2 separate regions of the Homo sapiens genome follow, and region 2 is linked to region 1. Evidence: fine-mapped expression QTL. Tissue or cell type: left ventricle. Region 1 holds a variant in brackets; the other region holds the start of a gene. All regions are shown on one strand. Distances are between the middles of the regions.

The links.
Region 2: it holds the start of DIRAS3, and the variant in region 1 is fine-mapped to the expression of DIRAS3 in left ventricle (GTEx, PIP above 0.99).

Annotation. Positions count from the first base shown.
Region 1 is chr1:68,009,494-68,022,405 of GRCh38, forward strand. All of the region lies in intron 1 of GNG12-AS1 (GNG12, DIRAS3 and WLS antisense RNA 1), which reads left to right. Among named protein-coding and RNA genes, the nearest start is that of DIRAS3, 35 kb to the right of the region's middle. The variant T/C (reference allele first, on the strand shown) is at 6,189.
Region 2 is chr1:68,046,031-68,058,942 of GRCh38, forward strand. It overlaps DIRAS3 (DIRAS family GTPase 3), which reads right to left and starts at 4,597. Exons shown (of 2, transcript NM_004675.5): 1 at 4,518-4,597; 2 at 1-1,332. The coding sequence starts at 1,267. The coding sequence ends at 578. The region is part of intron 2 of GNG12-AS1 (GNG12, DIRAS3 and WLS antisense RNA 1); the gene reads left to right. It also overlaps the pseudogene ARL5AP3.

The DNA of each region.
Region 1 (12,912 bases):
ACTCCTGACCTCAGGTGATCCACCTGCCTCAGCCTCCCAAAGTGCTGGGATTAGAGGCGTAAGCCACTGTGCCCAGACATTTTTTGAATGAATTCTCTGGAGTCTGTTTCTCTCATAGTATAGTCTCTGCTGGCTGCTCAGCTGCTCTCTAAAAAATTGTTTAAAAAATTTTACATCTGGCTTTCATGGGTTCACTGCTGAGTTGGCATAGCTCAGTGGCCAGCCAATAATTCATCAGAAGTTTTGCTTAAACACCTTTGCCAGGGTCAAAAAGGCCTCTACCCTTTGAATCTCATCTTATGAGTTATGATGAGTGTATAAATCAGTGTTCAATCACAGAAACAGAACCAGTAAGATATATCTATCTATCTCAATAAATATATTAAGAGATTTAATGCAAGCGATTGGCTTAAGTTATTGTAGGGGCAGGCTAGACAAGCCAAAACCTGAAGGACAGGCTATGAGAAGAGAAGCCTGGAAATCTAGGGAATAAGCTAAAGCTTCTGTACATAGAAAGAGTTTCTTCTTCATCAGGGAAGCCCCAGTTCTGTTCTTACAGCCTTTCAACTGATTGAATCAGGCCCACTCAGAAGAGCTGGGATAATCTCCCTGATTCAAAGTCAACTGATTATGGACTTTAATCATATGTATAAAATACCTTCCACAGCAACACCTAGATTTGTGTTTAATTGAATAACTGGGGAGTATAGGCTAGTCAAATAGGTAAAATAGAATCACAGAGAGCCATTGAATGGTTTAAGCAAGGTAGTAATATGATCATGCTTGCTTTAGATAAATACACCCTCTGGTGGCTAGGTAGAGGAAGAAGGAGCTGGAGGTTCTTGTAATAGACAAATTAAAGAGATATTAATTGCCTGAATTAGCACTATAACACTGAGTTTGAAGAGGAGGGTTGAATTACCATAAATATTTTGAAAGTAAATATTTATAAATGTATTTATATATAATTGTAGGTTCAGTTACACAGACAGTGTAGGGTTGGTATATAGAGTAAGAGTAATACTCTGTCTCACATTTTACATTACATCCGTCTACCGATCATCTATTAACCTCTTGGAGTTGCCATTTTCTTATCTGTACCTTTTTCCCTCAATAAATACGTTTTTTTCCAAGTTCTGACAATAAGCCCCATGCTGAAAGCCCTGGTTATCTGAATTGCCTTCCATTTATCCTTGTATTTCCTGCACAAAACAAAGACCACAGGAAGTGAGTTAGAATACTCTGGAAGATGAGCATATCTCATTTCCTTAGGAGTATATTGCAAAAACCTGTCTACCGAAAAGTAACACTTATGGACTGACTAAATGCATGCCCAAGCTTAGAGAAGCTGCAAGAACAGGAGTAAGCAATCCAAGAGGCCCAGGTGGCCTAGAATGCATCAATTTGTATTTATCAGTAGGAGCTCTGCTCCTGGATGAATGCAGGAGTTGAAGCTGACTCTGCTTCCCTGCCCGTGCTTCTAGAGCCTTTTGTGGGCTCCTGTGTTAGCAGTGCCAATGCCCCAGAGAAATCAATCACAAGACCTGAATTTGAGTCCTCCTGTTTCTTTATGTGGTCCTGGGAGGTGGCAACTCTAAACTTTGGGACAAAGGACAATCTCCAACTACCGCTGACCTTGGACTGCTAAGTTTCAAGGGCAAGATACATAGAAAATGAACCTGAACAAATGGTTTCTTTTCATTATCAGCTGTGATTTGAACCTAATTTCTCTGTAGAGCTCTTAGTCCCAATGAGCAGAACTGGGAAAATGTTAAGGACTCTCTTTGCACTTTTAGCTTAAGGTCTAGGCTAGGAAATGCCTCAGAAGACAAATGAAGCCTCCCTTCCCCTGATCCCCTATGTTGTGGTACCCTTGTGGTGTCTACTTGACCTTCCCAGGACATGGATACCCCTTCCTTAGCCTCATGAGAGAAGAGATATTTCCAAAGCCAAATGTAGAAGACAAAAAAGGGAAAGCTGAAGATCTAACATTCAGATTCCAGGGTTGTTTTTTTTTTAAATCATTTTCCTTATCACACTGAAATCTCTGCTCCAACCCTGAGCCTCTATCCTCCTTGGTCTTGATCCAAATCAGTACTTTAGTGCTCCACAGAGACGGAGTCGGGGCGATGGAGGGGGTAGTCTTGGCCTCTCTCTAGAGGCTGCCTTTCCCCCAAACCCTCTCTAACTGTAACTAAATCTGTTTGCTTGTATTAGTGGAGAAATTGAGTTTCAGAAATCATTATGCAGTTCATGTGGGTGCTAACATTTAGGTAAGCTGCCTGACAGCAGAGCTATAACAAATCATTGCTTATTGCTATGCTGCTCTGTAGAGTCCTGAGAGAAAGAGTCTATAGGCTGCTGTGTGTCCTTGGGGCAGCCAGAGCCACAGCTTTTGCCTTTCAGTGGCTTTGTGCAGGTTGCTGTCAATTTTTTTAGAGGGACCCCTCTGTTCACCACCAAACCCAGCCCAACCCCCTTCTGTGAAGTCTTCACCGCCCCCATTGCTGCTCCCCCAGCAAAAGTATAATGAATCACCTCCCTCCTCTGCCATTGCTCTAATAGCACTCTTTTATTATTGTGCTTCAAGCATGATTGTTTTCATTCTTTACTGAGCTACTGTCTGCTTAACACTAGATAGGTTATTTAAGCCTTAAAAGAGATTCTCTCTGCCCTCACAAAAGTCCACAGTCTTTAGCATGACTCATCTGCCAGCCTCATCTTGTACCATGCCTCCCTCACTCTCTGTTAACTTAACTTCAGGCAATGGGGAGCCAGGGAATGTTTCAAAGCAGAGGAGAAACCCAATCATGTTTGTGCTTTTTCCAGATGACTCTGGTGGTAATGGAGGATGCAATAGTTGGGAGGAAGACCGGAGTCTAAGTTACTGTAAAGTGGTTCTTATCATGTGAAAGATGATGAGGTTGGATCCAGCACGGGGGCAGTCAGAATAGAGAATACATATACTTTGATTCTAATATGTTTAGTATTTTTCATGTAAAAAATGCCACTTAGATCTCTTAATCAGCAAAACAGGAAAGGAATTGCTGTGTATGGATGAAATGAGATAGGGGATGAACAGCACCTGGCATGAAGCCTGGCGCATAGTCGGTGCTCAGGAACTGCTTCTTGTCTGCTCCCTTCCACCTGCAGCAGGCACAGCTCTGGGCTCTCATCCTTCTTCTGGAGGAGAGAAGAAGGGAGAAAAGCGATGTGGCAGCAAACCAGGGCAGCGACCTCATCAGTTACAGGTGAAAAAGATGGACCTAAATTGTTCGAGCAAATGAATGAATGGCCTTACTGCTCTTGCAGACCAGTGGTATATCTATTCATCCAAGATTCAGATTTTAACTAGGAACAGCAGGAGGATAAGTTTCTACAGTAAAGACAGTTGTTAGAATTCACAGAGCAGAGAAGCTCTTTAAGAGACAAGATTCCTGATAGTCTTTTCACGAGGAAGAAGAATATTGATTACAAGAGAAGGTTCTATGTGTGTTAGGCCCTATGCCCTCTCCTGCCTCAGGAGAGGAGAGGATGCCCTGTGAGCATCAGTTCCATTTGGTGATCTTTTTCATTTCTCCCTGTTTCCTTCATTCATGGCTGCTTCAAGCCAGGACAAGGCAAAATAAAGAAATTCTGACCTTCAGCAACTTCTTTATGCTCTCAGAATCTGCTTTTTCAATCTGTAGTTTAGAAATAATCATATTTGCCCCACAAAGTTTTTGTTAGAATTGAGGCAGAGGAAAAGAAGCTCTGCAACATTATATATCCACCTTAAATCCATGCATTGGCTACAGAGGTTCCTCCAAAAACACTGAACAGGTTGCTTAACTTAAAATATAATTTTATATATATATATAAAATATATATATAAAAGGAAATTGCTAAATCAAAATGAAAAAAAAAAAAGAAAAGGGCTTCTCACTGCCCTTAAAAAAGTCAGCAGTCGACAGCATAACTCATCTGCCAGCCTCATCTTTTACCATGCCTCCCTGGCTGTCTGTGCTTTGGCTGTATTGGCCTTTGTCATTTGTGAGAGATGCCATGCTCTTGCCAGCCTAGGCCTTTGCACATACTGTACCCATGCCTGGCACATTCTTGCCTCTTCTCTCCACCTGACCATCTCTTATCCCTCTTTTAGAATTGATATGGTTTGGCTTTGTGTCCCCACCCAAATCTCATCTCAAATTGTAATCGCCGGTGTTGAGAGAGAGACCTAGTGGGAGGTGGTTGGATCATGGCGGCAGTTTCCCCCATGCTGTTATTGTGATAGTGAGTGGGTGAGTTCTCATGAGATCCGTTGGTTTTACAAGGGGCTCTTCCCCCTTCACTCTCTTTTGACTGCTGCATGTAAGATATGCCTGCTTCCCCTTCTGCCATGATTGTAAGTTTCCTGAGGCCTCCCCAGCCATGCAGAACCGTGAGTCAGTTAAACCTCCTTTCTTTATAAATTACCCAGTCTCTGGCAGTTCTCTATAGCAGTGTGAAAATGGGCTAATACAAGGATCCAGGTTAAATTCACTTCAGTCATTTAAATCACAAATATTTATTGAGTGCCTACTATGTGCCAGGCACTTTTCTAGACAATGGGGAAAGTAGCAAATAGGAAGGCAAAGTCCTATGAATCTCGTATTCTAGCACTGGGGAGACAGAGGGAAAACAAGCAGGCAATGAAGGAACAAGATAATGCTTTAACGGTGGTATTGAGAGGCAATACAAGGGTAATCAGATGGGTCAGGCCAGGCTCTCTGGAGGGTGGTGGTTGGGTGGGAGAGGGTGGTATACATTAGATTAGATCACTTCTTAGTGATATGAGCTGTGAGCTGAAAGATTAAAAAAGGATACTCCCAAGAGAGGTAGCAGCAAATACAATGGCCTGAGGCAGAGATGAGCTTTGTACAGTCAAAGGGAAAAAAGGTCATGGTTCCTAGAACACTGTGATGGAGTTAGAGAAGCATAAGATAAATCAAAGAGGTGGGTGGAGCAGAACATCTAGGGCCTTCTAGGCCATGGGTCAGGGCTCAGATATTAAGTCTAAATGGAAGCTATTGGAGCATTTTAATTTACACTTACATTTAAAAAATATTACCCTGGATGCTAAATGGAGAATGCCTGGTAGAAATGACAGGGAGAAATCACAGGGTGGCAGGGAGAGGGAGAGGGAGTTAGGAGGAGTGGCAAAAACTTTTGGATGATCTGTACAGGATGCAATGTGGAGATATTGGTGACTCAGATGATACTACCCTTGAGGGGTTAATATCAATATCTTCATCTGGTAGATAAGGGAATTGAAGAGAAGTGGGGTACACTTTGGAATTAAATCCTATAGATCTTGTTCATGGATTGGGTGGTAAAGGTGAAGAAAGGAGATGAGACAATAGGAAGAGCAAGGAAGGAAAACACGCTGGGGAGAAATGAAGATTTTGGCATCTGCTATATTAAATTACTTTCTTATGGAAGACTTCCCTGATCCCCAGTCCTGGTTAGAGCTTTACATTGGTTGCTCCCAGAGCAATGTGTAGCTCTCCTTTGTAACACTCCAAACATTTTATCATTTGTCATTATTTGTTCCTTCACTAGACCTGATGGGAGGAACCCACCTTTCTTGTTTAATGCTATCTCTCCAGTGCTTTGCACAGTACCTGGCATGTAATTATAATATAATATAACAAAACATATTATTATAATAATCTGACATCTAATATAATAATATTAATAACAAACAACACTTAAAGAGTAGTTTCTCTGTGTCAGGTCCTATTCTGAGTGCTTTACAGGTGATTTTCACAGCAGTCCCCTGAAATGGGTACTGTTATGTTTGACAGATATGCAAACTGAGGCACAGAGAGAGTAAGTAAACTTGACCAAGGTCACACAGCTAGCAAATGCCAATAAGTGAATATTTTACAAACGATACATTGTTTATAGTTCACACCACCACAGTGAGGTATGTTTTTGTGTTCCTATTTTAGGTTTGAGCAAAGTGAGACATAAATCTGTTTGAGGTGTTGATACTGGGAAGTAGGGTTGGCAGGATTTGAACTGTCCAGAGACAGGCTCACTCAGTTTGTGAATGTTGAGAGCGTTCACTGTGGGGCCAAGCTGACTCAGTCTGAAATGTGTCCCTGCCACTTACTAGCTAGGCATGTGAGACTTTGGCTGAATTAAATGCTTTGTACTTCAGTTTC[T/C]TCATCTGTAAATTGACACTATTAACAGTGCTTGTCTTCAGGAGGACTGGATGTAATATTTGAAGAGCCCTTAGAATACATGTAGACTTTATGGAAAGGACCTACAGTTTGCCTATAGATAAAGCCAAGGAAGGAAGGTCCACTGCTCCCCAAGTCTTCTCCACGGGTCATTCATCCTGGATTAAGATGTTAGAACTAAACAATCATTGTGGTTACGGTTGACACTCATCTAATTCACTGCCTCCGTTCATTATATAGATAAATAAGCTGGGGCGTGCTGCGAGGGTAAGTGAATGAGATGGGACAAAATCCTGGGGAGCCTCCCGGAAAAACATGATACCTTCTGTATGTTCGAGGTTTCATAAAGATGAGTTATATAATCTCCAGAGCTAGAAAATCAGGCAGGCCCTTTTTGTGATTGAAAGAAAAACCTTCCTAATCATTTCTAAGACAAGCTCTCAATTTTCTTTGATTTGGGAATCAAAGAGAACAGGGAATATTATGCTCTTCACTGATGTTCTATTTTTTTTCCTTCTGCCAATCAAAAAGGAGGCCTAGGCAGCGTTGATTTTTTTTTTCTTTTACTCTTTCTTCCAGACCTCTGGTGGAGGTGTTAATAAAAAGTGAATCAGTCAAATCCCAGCTTATCAGGAGGAGACAGAAAAGGGATAAAAATTCAGGGTAGTCAAGCGCCACATAATAGGGATTACCTATTTTGAAGCTAATTTGACAATAAGGTGTCTGAAAAGCCAGTCTTCCCATTTCTTTAAAGTGCTTTGTCTGAGTTGTATGCCTTTCTGTCAGGCAGTGAACTAACTCAATGACGTCAGACTTCGTTTCTACTTCCAAAACATAAGTGGTAACTTACCCAGTCCCTGGTCCACTGAGCAAATCTGGCTTCAAAAAGAAACTGTCCTGATCTGACACAATCCAAGTCAAAATATTTGAAACCCTATTTGAAACTGTGGTCTGGCATAATCCACATGATTCAGGGCTAGGTTCTCATAAACTGACTCAAAAAACATGCAATCTTCTGGTAGAACTTTTGCCCAGGGCTGGTAAACATGCAAATTATTGCAGTCTTTTCAGAAAGTAATTTGGAAAAACAGATCAAGAAGGTTTAAAAGGCTCATATCTTTTAACCCAGGCTTGAGAAAATATTCAGAGACAGGACTGAGTTTTATACACAGGTTCTTCCTTGAAGCACTATTTGCAACTACAAAAACAAAACAGGAATCAAAGAAAATATCCAATAATTAACAAATTGCTTACATCATATTTCAATCATTCCAATATGTGTTTTCTTAAAAGAAATGTTTAGTGGCATGTGGAAAACATTCCCAACATGCACAAAGAGAGAGAAAACCCAGGGTTACAAATTACAAATAATATGATTTTAATTTTTTAAATCAATCCCATCCATCCATCCATCCATCCATCCATCCATCCATCCATCCATTTGTCCATTCTTTATCTCTTTATCTATCTAGGGGATATAGGCCTAGAAAAATAACTGAAAATAAATAAATATGTTAACAGTAATTATCCCAGTATATTGGCCTCTTTAGTATTTTTCATCTTTGCACTTTTCCATATTTTCCAAATTTCCTGTGGTGACCATGTCCTACTTTATAATAAGGAAAAGAATGATAAAGACTATCATTTACAGAAACAAGACAGCCCTTATCTCTTCTTTGAACTGCAAAAACACCTAACAACATATTCTCCTTCTCCTTCAATTTGTGTGCTACACGAGCTGCCATATTGATTTTTCTGAACCATTCTTTTTATTATAACATCCTTTCCCTTAAAGATTCTCTGGCTCCTCACTGCTTATATAAATAATTGTTAAACTACTTAACCTGGCTTTCCCGGCCTTCAGAAATCTGGTCCTGTTATACCATCTGTGGATTTTTATTAGTATTTTTTCTCCTTAAATCTCCATTCAACAGATATTTATGAAGCACCAGCTCTGTGCTAGGCTGGCTTTTCTCCTCACCTCCCAAATTCTCCACAAGTGGCCTCTTCCCTGGCCCAGCCTCATGTGCTCCCACCTGTAAGTCTCTGTTCCTTGGCATGCTCCTTATTGCACCCATTGCAAAAGATGCAATGTGTGTGCACCATCCTCTCAGAGACTTCTGTTTATCCACCCAACTTGGGCACATGCTCTAGGGACTTAGGCAAGTGCCTTAATCCCTCATTGCCTTCATCTTCCCATTTGTATAATGGAAACTACAGTGGCAATATGTAATCTATTCATTTGTTGTGAAGATCCAAAGAGCTGATATATGTAAAATGCTTAGGACAGTGTCTGGCACAATGTAAAAGCTCAAGAAACATTTCTTATTTGTCTTGTAACTTCCTTCAAGGTAGGATCCTAGTCTCATTCCAATTTACAACTCCCATGGAACCTAACCACCTTGCTCTGTCTCTAGTTGGATACTGAAGAAATTCTTGTTGAGTAATGTATGAATGAATGGCAGCTGCTATAGACTGAAGGTTTATGTCTCTCCCCACTATTCATATATTAACACCGAATCCCCAATGTGATGGCATTTAGAGTGGAGACTTTGGGAGGTGATTGGGTCCTGAGGGTATAATCCCTCATAATAGGATCAGTGTTCTGTAGGAAACAGCCCAGAGAGCTCCCTAACCCCTTCTACTGTGTGAGGATGCAGCAAAATGGCCATCTATGAACCAGGAAGCAGGCCCTCACCAGACACTGAATCTGTCAGAGTCTTGATCATGGACTTCCCAGCCTCCAGAACTATGAGAAGTAAATTTCTGTTGTTTATAAGCCACCCTGTCTATGGTATTGTTATAGAAGCCTGGATGGACTAAGACAAAATTTATATGAGCTTTTACTGACCATGTATATCCCTTCTCCTTTTGGACACTCTGTCCCTGACTATAAACCGTACCCATATCATTCATCACTTGTGTGGTCAATGTTGGTGCTATTCATTGTGATTATGGTCAAACCCTCTGCTGTAGCTGTACAACTTGGCATCAGATTTCTTCTGTTCCTGAAGCATTGTGGTGGTAGATGCTTAATAATCTTGCTCACAGATTTCTATACTGTTCCCATTTTTCCATAGCAAGTTGCAGAATAGCTACCTTATGTTTTCCAACCTTAATTTTCTTGGCCACAAGCCTGAAGGAAATTACATTAAGTCTTTCACTTTAAGCCCATGCATTGCATTATCCCAGATGAATGCACTAATTCATTTGAAAATTAGAGAAAAATAGACAAATGATGGTATAAAAAAAAAAGTAACTGATTTATTTAGGGACCACTATTTGCCAGGTTCTGCAATAATCCCTTTCATACAGTTATCCTGTTAAAAATGTGAAACACATTTAGAAGCTGTGTGACCACAGTCAAATCAAGTTGTTCCCTCTAAGCTTTGGCTTGAGCTTTCCCAGGCTGTACTATTGCCTGCCCAAATGCCGCTTCTGTTTTCTGCCCCATCTGTCAACAGTCTTCTAGAAAATTCTATTTACAAATAAAAAGTAGAGTTAATTATTTCCTATTTCAAACCTATTCTTCCTTCTATGTCCCTGCCATCCATTCAGCTGCCCAAGTCAGAAACTTAGGAGTCACCCACCCACCTTTCCTACCCCCACATGACTGCCCTGACTACAATTCAGGCCACTTTCATGTCTCATCTGCTTTAGGGCAACAACCTCCTAATTGGTCCCCCTTTCATAACCCCTTCTTGGCTGATCTAATCTACTTTTCTCATTGTAGCCATGATCTTTGCAAAATAAAAAAGTGGCCCTGTCACTCTCTGGCTTTTAAGCCCTCAACAGCTCTTCATGAACTCCATAAGATATCATCTAGCCCCTGCTTCTCTCTCAAGTTTTATCTTTTCAACCCATCAGTTTTTCGGTTATATACTTTGAATTTTATGTGCTACATGAGAGGTTCTCAAAGTGTGGTTGTAGGACCAATGGGGTTTCCGTGCCCTGTCAAGGAGTCTTAGGTCGAAACTATTTTCATAATAATACTAACATATCATTTGCTTTATTCACTTTCATTTTCTCATGAGTTTATGGTGGAATTTTCCAAAAGCTACATGATGTGTGCTATTGTAACAGATGGAATGCAAAAGTAGATATGAGAACCCAGCTAACTGTCTTTGATTAAGCCAGACATTACAGAGATTTGCAAAGATGTAAATCTATACCAGCTTCTCACTATTTTTTTTTGAAAAATATACTTGTTTTTTATAAAAGATATTTTTGTTAGCACATAATGCATAATGGGTTTATTATTATTTTAAATTAATAAATATACAGATTTAAAAATGTTTACAGTTTCAACATTTAATATGGTAAATACCAAGAAATATATCCCACATGAACAAAATATTTTGAGGGTGCTTAATAATTTTTAATATTACAAAGGGGTCCCAAGACTAGAAAGTTTCAGAACCACTACTCTAGCAGTGGAACCATTCAGAGCACCCCAGAATATGTTCTGTCACTTTCTCTCCCAGCCCACTCAGTGCTTCTCCATCACCATAATGGTTTCTCTCTGCTTCTTCTCTGTCTGCTGAATTCTCCTGCACAAGAGTCACCACTTAGTGAAAGCATTCCTTTGAGCTTTACAAGAGTAGCTACAAGGCTGACTTTTGCTGAAGGCCTCTTGTATGCTAAGCAAATAATTGCTTTACCTGCATTTTCTCCTCCTTTTTTTTTTTTTTTTTTTTTTTTTTTTTTTTTTTTTTGAGACAGGGTCTCACTCTGCCTCCTGGACTGGAGTGCAGTGGCACAATCTTGGCTCACCACAACCTCTGCCTCCCAGGCTCAAGCAATTCTCCTGCCTCAGCCTCCTGAGTAGCTGGGATTACAGACACGTGCCACCATGACCGGCTAATTTTTGTATTTTTAGTAGAGACGGGGTTTCACCATGTTGGCCAGGCTGGTCTTGTACTCCTGACCTCAAATGATCCACCCACCTTGGCTTCCCAAAGTGTTGAGATTACAGGTGTAAAACATCATGCCTGGCCCACTTTTTTTGTTTTGTTTTGTTTTGTTTTTTTGAGATGGAGTCTTCCTCTGTCCCCTAGGCTGGAGTGCAGTGGTGCGATCTCGGCTCACTGCAACCTCTATCTCCCGGTTTCAAGCAATTCTCCTGCCTTAGCCTCCCAAGTAGCTGGGATTACAGGCACGTGCCACCACACCTGGCTAACTTTTTTGTATTTTTAGTGGAGATGAGTTTTTGCCATGTTGGCCAGGCTGGTCTTGAACTCCTGACCTCAGGTGTTCCGCCCACCTCAGCCTCCCAAAGTGCTGGGATTACAGGCATGAGCCACCGCACCTGGCCTTCTCCTTTAAGTTAGGCTGAGGCAAGGCCAGGGAGGGTCAGGGAGGAGGAAAGATAACATCAGTTCTAGTCTAGACCTAAGAAAACTTAGGCTCAGAGAGGTTTAGAAGCTGCTCAGGTCACAGAGCTAGTGAGTGGCACAGTTGATTTGAATTCATCCTCTTCCCACTCAGTGGTTCTTATAGTTCTATGTGCTATGGTGTGCTGGTGAATAATAAACAACTGGCTCTCCAATAGGACAAAGCCCTCATTAGTAGTGTTTGGCAATTTCCATGGTGTAAATGCTCCTGCAGTGGCCAGTTTCAGGCCGCCAACATGACATCATTGAACAGAGAGATCAAAAGGGGTGTGCAGTCGTCCACATCATAGAGCATTTTCACCACACACATAAAAATGATGAAAAACTCAAGAGCACAGGTAATAGTTAAGTGTGGTAAAGTAATTGGGAATTACAGTGATGAATTCTGAGTATTTTGAATTTGAGCATATTTGTTTTAAATATAATTTCTGTAATTATAAGTTGATCTAATCTACTTGTTTATAATTGTTAATAATTGCGTGTTTAGCAACCAACTTGCATAATTCCCAAATATGTAACAATTGACTCTTGGACCTCAGAATTAACTTTCAACCTTTGGACATCACAGATGTTTGAGCCCTCTTCCAAACCTACTGAAGCCACCTCTCCATGCTGGTGTCCAGGCAGCTGTGTTTTTACCAAGCCCTCCAATCTCATCTCATCATGCACACAGAGAGTCATTTGTTCATTCTTCCCTCATTCACCAAGTCAGCACACATTGACTAAAGGCCTACATTATGTCAGATACTGTTTCAAGGTGCCTACCTCATGGTCCACATTCCTACCAGACGGTATCCTCATTTAGAGCAGGGATGGAGCCTATCTCCCAGAGCTTGGTGCAGAGTCTAATGCATCATACAAACTTAATAAATGTTTTTGCTGGAACAAAATAATAACAAGAAGCCAGGTTTTGCCTGGCTCAGCTCCAATCAGCCCAAATCTCTGGGATTGGAGAGCATAAGCATCAAATGTGGGTTGGCATGAGATAGGTTTGGGTTTGAGTCTGATTCTTGGACAAGTAAGTTAGTCTACTACTTTTCCATTTCCTCTGCTGTAAAAATACTAATACCCACTTTAGAGGGCGGTTGTAGGAATTACACACAATCATGTTTTTATCGCATCCTTAGCAAAGTGTCCTGGTCACATTATCTGAAGAGCATCCTTGGCCACTCTTGGTTCCTTCATCCTGTGTTATTTTTCTTCATTATGCTTATCATTGTTTGATGTTATAGTATGTATGTATGCATGTCTGATATTTAGGTATTTTATTATTGTGCCTCCTCCCCATACTACCCACCCACTAGAATGGTGTT
Region 2 (12,912 bases), 37 kb after region 1:
CAAACATTTTTAAATGACATGAGAAACTACTAACATCTTTAGTGAGAGTCACTTTCACAATTTTCTCTGCTCCCACACCCCTAATGATCAACATATTCATTTTTTTATTTAGTATATGTCACGCAGCAATTTATCAAAAGCTTTTGTTGTGAAAACACTTTTCTTAAATACACAATTAAAAGATATGATTAAGCACTTACAGGATGTGAAATATTTAAAGGTAATACACAATAATCGGGTTACCAAAAGGACGCCTTCCAATTTTTCTTTCTATTCATTTTGATGTTTTGTTCTTTTCAAAACATTTTCTCTCATTACATTCATTACTAAAGGCCTTACTTTAAATACATCATGCTACATTTTGTTCTCCTCTTCAAATGCCAATGTTTTAACAATTTGAATTCTCTGGCCTGGGAAAAAGAAAAGTTATCCACTTACAAGGTATACGTATTGACAACATGGATGTTACAGTCCAAACAACAGCACAAAATCAACCATGTACATGTAACATAGTGAAATGAGTCCACGTTTTCTACACGCTACAGGATAGGAAGAGCTGGCTCTTAAGGCCCAGGGCTCACATGATTATGCACTTGTCAAGCAGCTTCTCAGTGGTGTTGGGCATCTGGGATTTCTTCTCGGGCTCCTGGAGGCCGGTGGTGGGCTTTTTCTTGTAATTCAGCAGCATGTGGAACAGCTCCTGCACATTCACATCGGTCTTGGCTGAAATCTCCATGAAGGCGCAATTCCACTCCATCGCACAGGTGGCACCATCATTCAGGGCCACCTCCCGGTGGGTGTCATCACTTTTATTGCCCACCAGCACGATGGGGAACTTATGCAGGTTGTTACCTTTGATCTTGCAGATCAGCTCATAGAAGGCCTTCAGCTCTTCCAGGGTTTCCTTCTTGGTGACTGAGTAGACCAGGACGAAGGCGTGGCCCCGGGCTATAACGTGGCGCTGCAGAGCGCGGTTGCCGTCGCCACTCTTGCTGTCGGTGATGTGCAGGGAAAGCACACCGTGGCTGCAGCCCAGCAACTGGCAGTAGGTATTTTCAATGGTCGGCAGGTACTCATGACGGAAGTTGCCGCTCGCCCACTTGTGCAGCAGCGTACTTTTCCCCACACCAGCGGTGCCGACTACCACGACGCGGTAATCTCTGATCTTCCTGTGGGGCTTGAAGGCGCGGAGGATAAGCAGGGCGGGCAGAAGCCGCAACCGCTTCAGCAGCTTCTGTTCCTTGGAGCCAAAGCTGGCGTTACCCATCGTTGGGATTCGGAGGGGAGATACGTGCACAAGTTCTCCCACACTTAGCTGGCAGCAGGAGACCCCTAGGAAGAAAGTGAGACGGTGAGAGATGGTAGTGGTAACCTACAATGTTGTCAGATCATGTCAGCCTGGCCAGCTGCTCCACTAGGACTCTGAAGAGAGTCCACCCTGTGACGTAAAGGGGTGCACACAGCGAGAAGAAAATTCCCAGGCACACAGTTCAGCCTGCTAGACCGAGGGACCAGCAGGTGATATATATTAAACAGACATGGTGGTTTGCTTTTTACCATCTAGAAAGTGCAGCAATACTACCTTTTGTTTTCTTTCCTTAAACTGTTTTATTAAATTCTCACTACACCCCTACAAGAAACACTCTCATTTCCTCGCTTGTAAAATTAAGATTTTAATTGAAGAGGACTGAACAGTCAAAGAGAAACAGGTGAGGGAATTTTCCCCACTCTATGGGGCTGAATGCCAAGGTGACATTTAGAGTGACACCGCCGCCCTGGTTAAAGCTACAGAGTCATCAGTACAGGAGAAAGGAGGGGGTTTTTGGTATCAGTGGTGTGGGATGTAGAGAGGGGAGGTACCTGCAGTCAGTGCAGCCCCAGAAGAGGCATGGGGAGCACCTTTGCTCTGAGCATGCTGTCACCATGTGCCACCAAGAGCTGAGGGAGGGGTCTTAGTTCATGAATCCTTAGTCACAATGACAGTGGAGTAAAAAAAAAAAAAAAAAAAAAAAAAAAAAAATATATATATATATATATATATATATATATATATGAACCTTTCTCTTCAGGATCTAATCTCTGATTAGAAAAGATTGTAAATATTGAATGAGTTTTTCTACAGAACAGTGGTTTTTCTTTTGCCATGGCTACTACCTTTAACAAAGTACTTTTAATTCAGCCTTATGGAAATAGAGAAAATTTCAGGATTTGAACAGTCAATGAACTTTTTGAGTTCAGGAATAAACATAGTAGATTAGGTTTGTAAGAAACTTTTCTCACAGGTATATCCTAAATACCAGACAGCTGCCCAGGGGGACTGCTTCAGAAGCATCCTAGGTCAGATGGAAAAAGTTCTAGGCACCATGCAGACAGACCACATAGCTGGCCTCTGGACAGAGGTAGGAATAGTACAAGGCAATGTCATTCCTGTGGCACTAGGTATAGAAATTTATACATGTTTCTAGGTGATGATGGTCCTTAAAATGCACTTCTCTTCAGGTACAGCTATGATTGTGTCATGTACAATACCAGAAAGAGAAGAGAGGCTTTTTGTGAATAGCACACTCCCTATATAAACTAGCCTGTCTTGCTGGCTGCGTAGTTGAACACATACTCTCCCAGTACTGGGGAAAAGGACCCTTTTTAGAATGTGCAAGTCCCATGAGAGAGTAATATGTCCATATTAGAGTTTTGGTGGTGGTTTTTTTTTTTTTGTTTTTTTTTTTTGAGTCAGGGTCTTGCTCTGTCCCTCAGGTTGGAGTGCAGTCATGCGATCATGACTCACTGCAGCCTCAACCTCCTGGGATCAATCAATCCTCTCACCTCAGCCTCCCGAGTAGCTGGGACTACAGGCATGTGACACCATGCCCAGCTAATTTTCTTATTTTTTGTAGGGACAGGGTTTTGCTATGTTGTCCAGGCTGGTCTTGAACTCCTGTGTTCAAGTGATCCTCCTGCATCAGCCTCCCAAAGTGTTGGGATTACAGGTGTGACACAACATACCCACCCCATATTAGAGTTTTCATTTGAAAAAAAAAAATGTTGTTGCTGGTTGTTATATCTTCAGACTTAACTTGCTTCTAATTCTAGTCTGGCTTCTTTAAGATAGTGTGATTCTAAGAGTGTTCTAAACTTAAGTGGCAAAATTTAAGTAGATGATTTTATATTCTTGATTAAAGGGGGCCAGGGAGGTTAATACAGTAAATATTTGAAATTGATATAAAATAAATACATACATATATCTAAACCATTCATTTTTGCAGCTTTCAGGTAAAATCTAGCACTTTATTCCAGTCTATGAGATGTGGTTAGTTGATATCATCTAATATTAAGTAATGACATCAGCTATCCAAATCCTGGGCACAATTCCTTTAGCAATGATGACCTTTAATAGAATTTAGCTTAAAAAACTAGGAGATTTCTGCTACAGTGATGCAATCTTTCACATCTTATTTATTAACAAAAATCAACAATCCAGCTTTCCTTAGGTCTTCACGCACTAAGAGTTCTCTAGTCACAGAAATCCTAGCCTTGTCTGCACTCTCCACAACTATTATAAACTCCATGTTAGTATCAAGAGTTCCAGTAAAGACCAAATATCTCTTGGCCACCAACATCCCACATTAGGAAATGTGCATTACTAATTATTCTGTTTTACATTACTTCCTGCTCTAGGGGATGTATGTACAAATTCATTCATAGAAAATTGGTAAAGCAGCCGGGCGCATTGGCTCATGCCTGTAATTCCAGCACTTTGGGAAGTCAAGGTGGGAGGATCGCTTAAGCACAGGAGTTCAAGACTAGCCTGGGTAACATAGGGAGACCGCCGTCTCTATCAAAAAGAAAATAAAAGAAAAAAAATTGGTAAAGGACACACGTGATAACTGAAGTTTCCAGATGTGAAGAGAATTCTCATTCTCAGGCAGTGGACCCCCCCCCCCACTCCCCTCCACACTCCTTCCACCTTCCCAGGCCACCTGGCCTCAGGCTGAGGGGGAGGTGAAAGTTTCCAGGAACCAGAGGGCGTCCAAACCCAGCGGCCGTGCGGAGCTCAAGGTCCCGCCGCTGCTGTTGCGGCACCAGCCTGGCTCATGGACATCACCACGCACCTGCAAGGTCAGGTTTCTCTCTGGTGGCTGTGGCGGCTGCTACCCTCCTCGCCCATTTCAATCTTACTTTCACACTACATGACTCCACTATTACTTCCTGAACACTAGCTACCTACGCAGCTGTAATAGTGGACACTGTGTCAACCTTTAAGCTCGCACACTTATCAAACCTCGTTCTTCTATATTAAAAAGTGCTAGCTTCCCAACGGGACTATCCAAAGTGCAGTTGCAGGACCTGCCAGGAGCCCGCAGGGCTGCGGGTGGTTCTTGCGTAATCGCGCCAAGAAAGACCTGGTTCCAGTTTCAGGGACAACTCGCCCATAAACTTCTACTGCGCAACAGCATCTGCTGCTTTGTCTGACACTTGTTGTTTTCAAGTACCCCTAAAAAAGCGAAAGAAAGACTTACCTTTCTCGGAGGCACGAACCAAGCAGCCTAGAAGACAAATGCGCTGCTCGGAGAGACTGCCGCGGCAACCAACTGGACACCCCAAGAGCTCACTCCTCCGCGGTTTTATATTCCGACTTGCGCACAGGAGCGGGGTGCGGGGGCGCAGGGAGTGTGGGTAACAGGCATAGATTCCGCTTGCGCAATACGTGGTAAGAAACCAGCTGTGAGGGGCTGGCCCAACGCAGAGCGGCGCGAGGTCCGCTTGGCATCTACAACAATCGAGGGGCTAGTCCAGAAGTTCAAGGCGGGGTTACAGGTTGGGGAGGAACTGTTAAACTGTGGACTTTTTCTCACCTGTTGGAATAAGCTTCAGGCAAAACTTTGCCAACAAAAACCGGTCCAACTGATTTTAGACGAAAGTCCAAAAGCAGTTTAATGCAGGACAGATAATCTTTTCCACAAATGATACTGAAAAGACAGGACATCTATAGATTCCCCCCCGCCAAAAATAACCCTTACATAAAAATTAAGTGGCTAGATATAACTGTGACGAGTAAAATTACAAAACGGTTTTAAAAAACAACAAACTATTGTCTAAGGCTAGGCAAAAGGTTCTTAAATTGACATTAGTGGCAAGACCGGTAAAAAGAAATGTTGATGAATTAGACTCCATAAATTTAAAACTTTTGCTTTGTGAAAGACCCTGTAACGATACTGAAAAGGTTTACCTAGGAGAAAATATTTACAAGCCATATATCTGGCATACAACCAGTATCTAGAATATGTAAATAACTCAAAAATCAATTATTTTTAAAAATCCAATTAGAAAATAGTCAGAAGACATAAACAGACACTTCACTGAAGATATGCAGATGGCAAATAACCATATGAAAACCTTTAATGTCATTAGCCATTAGAGAAATGGGAATACGAGGCTTTCGTTGTTCTTCGCCTCCCACTAGGGCGGGTTGAGGGTCTGGCTCCAGTAGCCCCGGGTGCCTCTCACTCCTTGGGCGCAATGCTACTATCCTGGCAGAACCCTCGCCGAACCCTCGCAGGACGCCCCATCGGGTCCGCCAGCGGCTAGGAAGCCCGATTGTGTCGTTCCTTTTTCCCTCTGCGCCTCCCACCGCCAGTCCCTTTTCCAAATGCGCCTGCGTCTGCCCTCCACATCTCCGAGCTCCGTCTGGCTTCTTTCTCCCTTGCCTGTGAGCGCCTGGCGGCGGATGCATTGAAAGCTGCGCACCACCGCCTACCGAGCGTTTTGGGGAGTGTGTGGAAGTTGTTGGCAGCAGGTTTTGACAGCAGTACCCTATGGGCCTAGTCGTTGACGGTAGCACCTGGTTTTGTGTGCCCCAGCCAGCTGAGGCCAGGGTGTGTGGTGTGGGCCACTGGTACTGCTCTTCTGCCACTATAATCCCTCCCCCTACCAGGTACCTGGTGCGTAGAAGTCTAAAGACCTGTGAGGTCTAGCCTGGCGCCTGTAATCCTAGAGAATAAGGAGGTTGAGGCCAGGAGTTAGAGACCAGCCTGGGCAACATGGGGAGAACTTGTCTCTACTTTAAAAAAATTTAGCCCAGTGTGGTGGTGGCCGCCTGTAGTCCCAGCTATTTGGGAGGCTGATGTGGGAGGATCACTTGAGCCTCCCACATCAAGGAGATCGAGGCTGCAGTGAGCCGTGATCACAGCCACTGTACTCCAATCTGAGCAACAAAGTGAGAACCTGTCTCAAAACAAATTCCAACCTGATTCTGGTATAGCATCACATGACAGGTAGCAGCCCTAAGGGCGATCAAAGTATTTTACCCCAAAATATATTTCTGACATATTTTGGAATGGTCCTGTGCAAAGCTATCTTTTGCGAGGGAAATTTGTGTTCTGTGGACAATCTCCTTCCCTTTCCAGGTCTTTCTCTGATCCGGGAGAGATTTAACTAAGAGTCTGACACCGTTTAAGGTCATTTACCTTTTGAGGTACATATGCCATCTATTCTTTCTGAAGCATATTACAGGCTTCACATATGTAACAAGAACCCTGGCTTCCACAACCTCCCTCCTGCCACCACTGGCCAAACCCCTCCTCCTCCAAAATGTACCGGCTTTCCAGGTCAAACCAATGTATACCTTACATATATTGACTGATGTTTTTGCCTGTATCTTCTGTCTTCCTAAAATGTATAAAAGAAAACTATAGTCCAAACACCTTGGACACATGTTCTCAGGACCTCCTGATGCTGTGTCACAGGCCGTGGTCACTCATATTTGGCTCAGAATAAACCTCTAAATATTTTACAGAGTTTGGCTTTTTTCACTGGGTTTCCCCACTCATTTTATTGGCATTAGCTCATACTCTTTCTGTCCAATCATATTTCTACATTGCTGTCTATATTTTATTAATCCTAAGTTAAAAATAGACAATTTCCTCTATATGCTTGGGTCATCATTCTGCAGGCTCCCATGTATACATATTAAATACATTTGTATGCTTTTTCTCCAATTAATCTGCCTTTTGCAGGTTGATTTTTCAGTGAGCCTTCACTGAAGTTTCCCTTTGGTCCCTGCACTGGTAATTAACTCAAACTGTTTTACCAAAATTTGATTCATAGCCTTTATCTCATTTTACCAGAAAAATAATTTGGATCCAACTGTTCTCTATAAACCAGCAAGTTTATATGTTTTACTATCTCACAACTAAAATTCTAAAATAAAAGCTAGAAGACCTTTATGTGTATATTTGTTTAAATATATTTACACATATGTACATGTATTATGTTGTATGTTATGTCTACATAATAAAATTCAGTGTGGTAGGCCAAAAATCCCTTAAGAAATGTTAATCTGATTGGTTTAAATAGATGGGCACTCACACAAAAACATAGTAATTAACCTAATTTTTTTAGTTCATGTAACTTAATCTTTAAAAAAGTAATTGGTTTTAAAATTGTTGATAAAATAAAATTAAAAACGTCTTTCTAATTGTCAATATATATTTTTGCCTGTGTTTACTGGTGTGGGGGCTATGGCTCTCAGCCCCCCAAAGATTTGCTGGAAAATCACTGACATGGGCCACATTGATTAGTAAGAGAAAAGACATACAAATGTATTTAATGTGTATACACAGGAGCTTTCAGAATAAAGACCCAACTTCTCAATGAGTTATAGAAGTTTATACACTAGTCTTGAAATTACAGAAAGAATGGGGGGCTTGGATTCTGGTAAAACAGATTATGGGAGGAGAAGAGGAATTTATTGAGGGGCAATGAATGATTGGTGAGAGAATGATTGGATTGAGCAACAGATATTAACTTGTAAATAGTTTTCTTTGGAATTTAAATAATCCTTGGAGGCAGTCATTGTACTTCTATAAAGGTCTGCTTGGGTGTGGTTACATTTTGGTCTTCTTTTCTTTAACAGATGAGATAACAGGAGGAGGAGAACCAACAATTGCTCTCCTTGGTGGGTCTGGTTGTTAGGCAGATAAAGGAACTTCAGCTTCTTTGGGAAGGATGGTGGGGTTGGAGGAAAAGTCAGAGAGACCTTGAGGCTTCTTTAGTTTAGCGTGTCAAATACCATGTTTTGGCATATCAGTTTCTGAGCACCAGCACTGGTCAGTTTTATATTTGCCTGTGCTATTAAGGTCATGAAGCTATAAACCAGGCCTAAAGCAAAGTGATATATATTTATGCAATTCTTTGATAAATAAGATTAATTTAATATTATTTAACAAAAACAGCTGTGGCTGGGTAGTGACTCCCACCTGCAATGCTAAAACTTGGAGAGGCCAAGGTGGGAGGATCACTTGAGCCCAGGAGTTTGAGATCAGCCTGGGTAACATAACAAGACCCAATCTCCATAAAAAAATTTAAAAATTAGCCAGGCATGTGCCTGTGATCCCAGCTACTCTTAAGGCTGAGGAGGGGGGATCCCTTGAGCCCAGAGTTCAAGGCTAGAGTGAGCTATGATCACACCACTGCACTCTAGCCTGGGCAACAGAGTGAGCCTTTGCCTGTAAGGAAAAAAACAAAAGTTGTATTTTCTGAGTTATCTACAGATACCCATGTATTTAACTTTATGGCTCTTATGTGGGTAAACACCTCATGTTAACAGGCTATATAATTATTTAATTTAAAAAAACTTGAAATAATGACCAGCTCCATCTAATATCTCAATTTTTGTAAGAAATATAGGTATAATTGTTAAAAAATAAATTAACTGTAAATGAAATAAATGTTTATAAATGAACTCATGTAATTTAAAGTCTTAAAATTTTATGTTAAATCATATATACAAAATAAATGTCTGTATCATAGTCAGATAAGATAAAATGATTGGTTATCCCACATTTTTAAAAAAAGAAAAATTATAGGACTAAGAGGTAGGGGTTAGGAAAATAAAAGGTCTAAAGTTGAAGAGGACTAATAAAGGATGAGCTAATAAAAGAAGTTTTATGTGTTATTGACTTGGCTGGAATTAAAAACAAATTGTTTGTGTGTTTTTCTAAAAATTAAACGTTCTCAGGTAGGGGACCAGGGGACAGGCACTGATACAGAACCAGAGTCTGGTTCCTTATATTTAAAACAACAAGATTTCTTGAAGTATTATCTGATTTTAATAAAATTTTAAGGGGTTTTGATTTTTAAATTTATACTCTGTTTTTAAACAGGTATCTTCTCCTTGACATCTATTTAATTTTCCTAGTTTTGGGTTAAAAATGTTGTCTTCTTGATTTAAAGTGGTAATTTCATTCCTTGAGGTACAGTTGTTTTTTTTTTTTTATTTCTCAAATTCATATTGCAGAAGTTCATCTTTTACAGTTTCTTGCTGTACATGATTTGCAGGTCAATATGTCATTTCCTTCATTTTTTTCTCCCCTGGAGAAGGCCTGAGATGATCATTCTCCTCTTTGGCTTTTTTTGGTTCTAACATTGCTGTTTTGGCCTGACATTAGAATATTTATCTTGAAGGCGTAGAAAAGCAGCGTTTTTCTCCAGTATAACTTAATTTTGTGCTCTTGGCTTTTCTTGATATGTCTGAATTTTTCCATATAACCAGAAAAGTTACTGTGGTAAGTAACAGCATGCTGTTACTAAGAACCATGTAGTTCCCTGCTCAAGGTACTAGTTTTCTTGTTTATATTCCTCTATAATATAGTGTATACTTATAACCTTGGACATATTCTTCCTGTGTTTCATGACATTCAAGTTCCCTTTTCATCAGGTTCAACTTCCACGTTATCTGAATGAGCTTCCCATAATGAAAAACAATCACACCGAAGAGGGCTTTCTTTACGTTTTTGGTAGCGAGTCTAAGAAACAAAGATTTTATGTTTTAGCAAACTAACTTTCTATGTTACCTTTATTAGGCTTTTGATTACTTAAAAAAAAATGAGTTTTAAAAGGGTTAAGGTTTCTAAATCCATGTGACTTTCTTATTGCTTTTGAAGTCTTTTGATTATGACACTGGTTAAATGAATAACTGTTATTTCACAGCAACCTGTGATTCTGTTTTGAACCTTTTAACATCTTTGACAAATGTCTCCCAGGTCAAATCCTATTTTAAGACTTTTTGACCTAAAATTAACTTTGAGATTTTTTCAGTTAGGCTCCTGGAAAACCTTAAAAGACATATTTCTCATTTTGTAGAGATGACTAGGCTTATTTGGTGAATTGTATAAAAACATCGTCAAATAAGTGATACTAGATTTTCTTTTAGTTACATTTATGTACATGTTGACATGAATGTTTCAAAAATTATATAAATTCATAGAAATCGAGTATGTTTTCAGTCATAATTCTAACATAATCTTTTGTTCAAATTATACTCATCGTCCCTGTTGTAGAGCTGGACATTCTCTGCTGTAATTCAACCCAGTCATAAAATTTTACCCAATGGCTACAACAGGACTCAAGACTCAACCAGTTTCCTACATGGTCTTTTGATTTCTTTAGTTGGTTACCTTCAACAGTAGGTTCATGGTTTAGCACCAGTATTTAGACCAGACTGATTATATTAGTGGGTTTTTTTGTGTGTGTGTGTGTTATGATTTTTAAACTTTTTTCTTATTACTTGACTAGTCTTTGTAAAGCCAGCTCTCCCAACAAGATAATGTTAGCCCAGCAAGATGATTGACTAGACATAGCCAGGTAGAATAGCTTCTACCAAGGGACAGAGACAGCTGGTATACTCCTAACAGATTTTCAGAGGGAAGGCTGCCCCTACCACTTCCCTCCAAAAATGATGTAGGGAAGACACAGAAGCTGGGCTGAAGTGGGGAGAAACCTGGGAACACTCTATGGGGCTACCGTGCACCCGGACTCTTTCCTTGACCCCAGTGGCTCTGAGGGCATGGGTGAGTTGAACTTGCAAGGAGCAACACATTCTTGCCATAGGCCTCTGGAACCCCACCAGGAGGAGACCCCTCAACCACCATGGACACTTGAATTGGCAGGAAGGGCTACTTAGAGAACTGGTAGGGGCAGCAAGCCAGCTGATGTGGAGCACAGAGGGTTTGGAGCAGGAACATCTGTAGTGGAGCATGGCCAGGGACACCCATCCCCCTTGGATCAACTTACTTCCATAGGAGACTTTAGCCCCAGGGGAACTGTTAGTCCTGAACTCTGTAGGGCAATCTTGCCCATCAGTTGGGGCTGGTCCAACCTGAGCACCCCTTGCTCTGCTGGCCTCCCCCAAGGCCCTAGCCTAGCCACACCTGCTTGCAGGGCAATCTCAGGCACGTGGGGGCCCACATCATAGTTTCTGTGCTGGCGGACTGTGCCTGACTGGAAAGCTCTAGCTGGGTGGCCCTCACAGCCCACATACTCCCTCCCCACATTGCAGCTTCCCTGAGACCCACAGCAATTCCCAACATTGCTTCGCTGGTGCATATCTTTGCAGACAGGTTTTGCTTTCCTTGCCCTGCCATCTCACCAGTATGTGTGCACCTTACCCTGCCACTGCAGCGCGAGAGTGCAGTCTGACCCTCTCTCACTGCTGACCATCATTGCAGATGGAGCCTTGATGAGCACAGAGCGAATTCTGCCCCGACGGTGCCCTGCCCTTGCACTAACACTGCTGTGGGAGTGAAACTAGGTGCAGAAAACAACAGATCTCTCCCTGGCCTGAGCAATTACTCATGCTTGTGAGGCACAGAGAAAGCTCACAGACCTGCACCTGCCAGCATCCAGCTCCCAAGCCAACACCACAACCAGTGCAGCCATGCACACCCTCACCAGCAGGGGCCCCTGCTCCCCCTAGCTGCATTGCCTCCACCACTATGGTGAATACCCTCAGGGAGGCAGGCACCCTAGTACCCTGCCGCAGTTGCCACTACCACTGCTGCTGGTACCTGTGAATGAGAATGGATCCCACTATAACTGCACTACAAATGCTTTGGCTGACACTGTGGGCAGCAAGCCACCCAGGTGCCAAGGCAAGAGACCAAGGGCACGAGCTGTTCCAGTATAATAAAATATATAAAATAAGAATAGTTATACTAGATATAGATCTTAGATACGATTTTATATGAATATCATTAATCATTAGTTTGTAGTAATTACTCTTTATTCCAATATTATAATAATCCTCACTCTACAATCATAACCTAGGAAAAACCAGGCCATACAGAGATAGGAGCTGAGGAGACATAGTGAGAAGTGACCAGAAGACAAGAGTGTGAGCCTTCTGTTATGCCCAGACAGGGCCACCAGAGGGCTCCTTGGTCTAGCGGTAACGCCAGCGTCTGGGATGACGCCCGTTACCAAGTGGACCGTGGTCTAGTGGTAGCATTAGTGTCAAGGAAAAACACCTGCTACTTAGCAGACAAGGAAAGGAAGTCTCCCTTTCCCTGGGGGAGTTTAGAGAAGACTCTACTCCTCCACCTCTTGTGGAGGGCCTGACATTAGTCAGGCCCACCTGCAGTTTTCTGGAGGCCTAACCATCTCCCTGTGATGCTGTGCTTCAGTGGTCATGCTCCTAGTCTGCCTTCATGTTCCATCCTGTACACCTGGCTCTGCCTTTTAGATAGCAGTAGCAAATTAGTGAAAGTACTAAAAGTCTCTAATAAGCAGAAATAATGGTGTAAGCTGTCTCTCTCTTTCTCCTCTCTCTCTCTGCCTTGGCTGCCAGGCAGGGAAGGGCCCCCGTCCAGTGGACACGTGACCCATGTGGCCTTACCTATCACTGGAGATGGTTCACACTCCTTATCCTGCCCCTTTGTCTTGTATCCAATAATTATCAGCGCAGCCTGGCATTCTGGGCACTACCGGTCTCTGCATCTTGGTGGTAGTGGTCCCCCGGGCCTAGTTGTCTTTTCTTTTATCTCTTTGTCTTTTGTCTTTATTTGTACGCTCTCTCATCTCTGCACATGGGGAGAAACCCACCGACTCTGTGGGGCTGGACTCTATAGACACCACGCA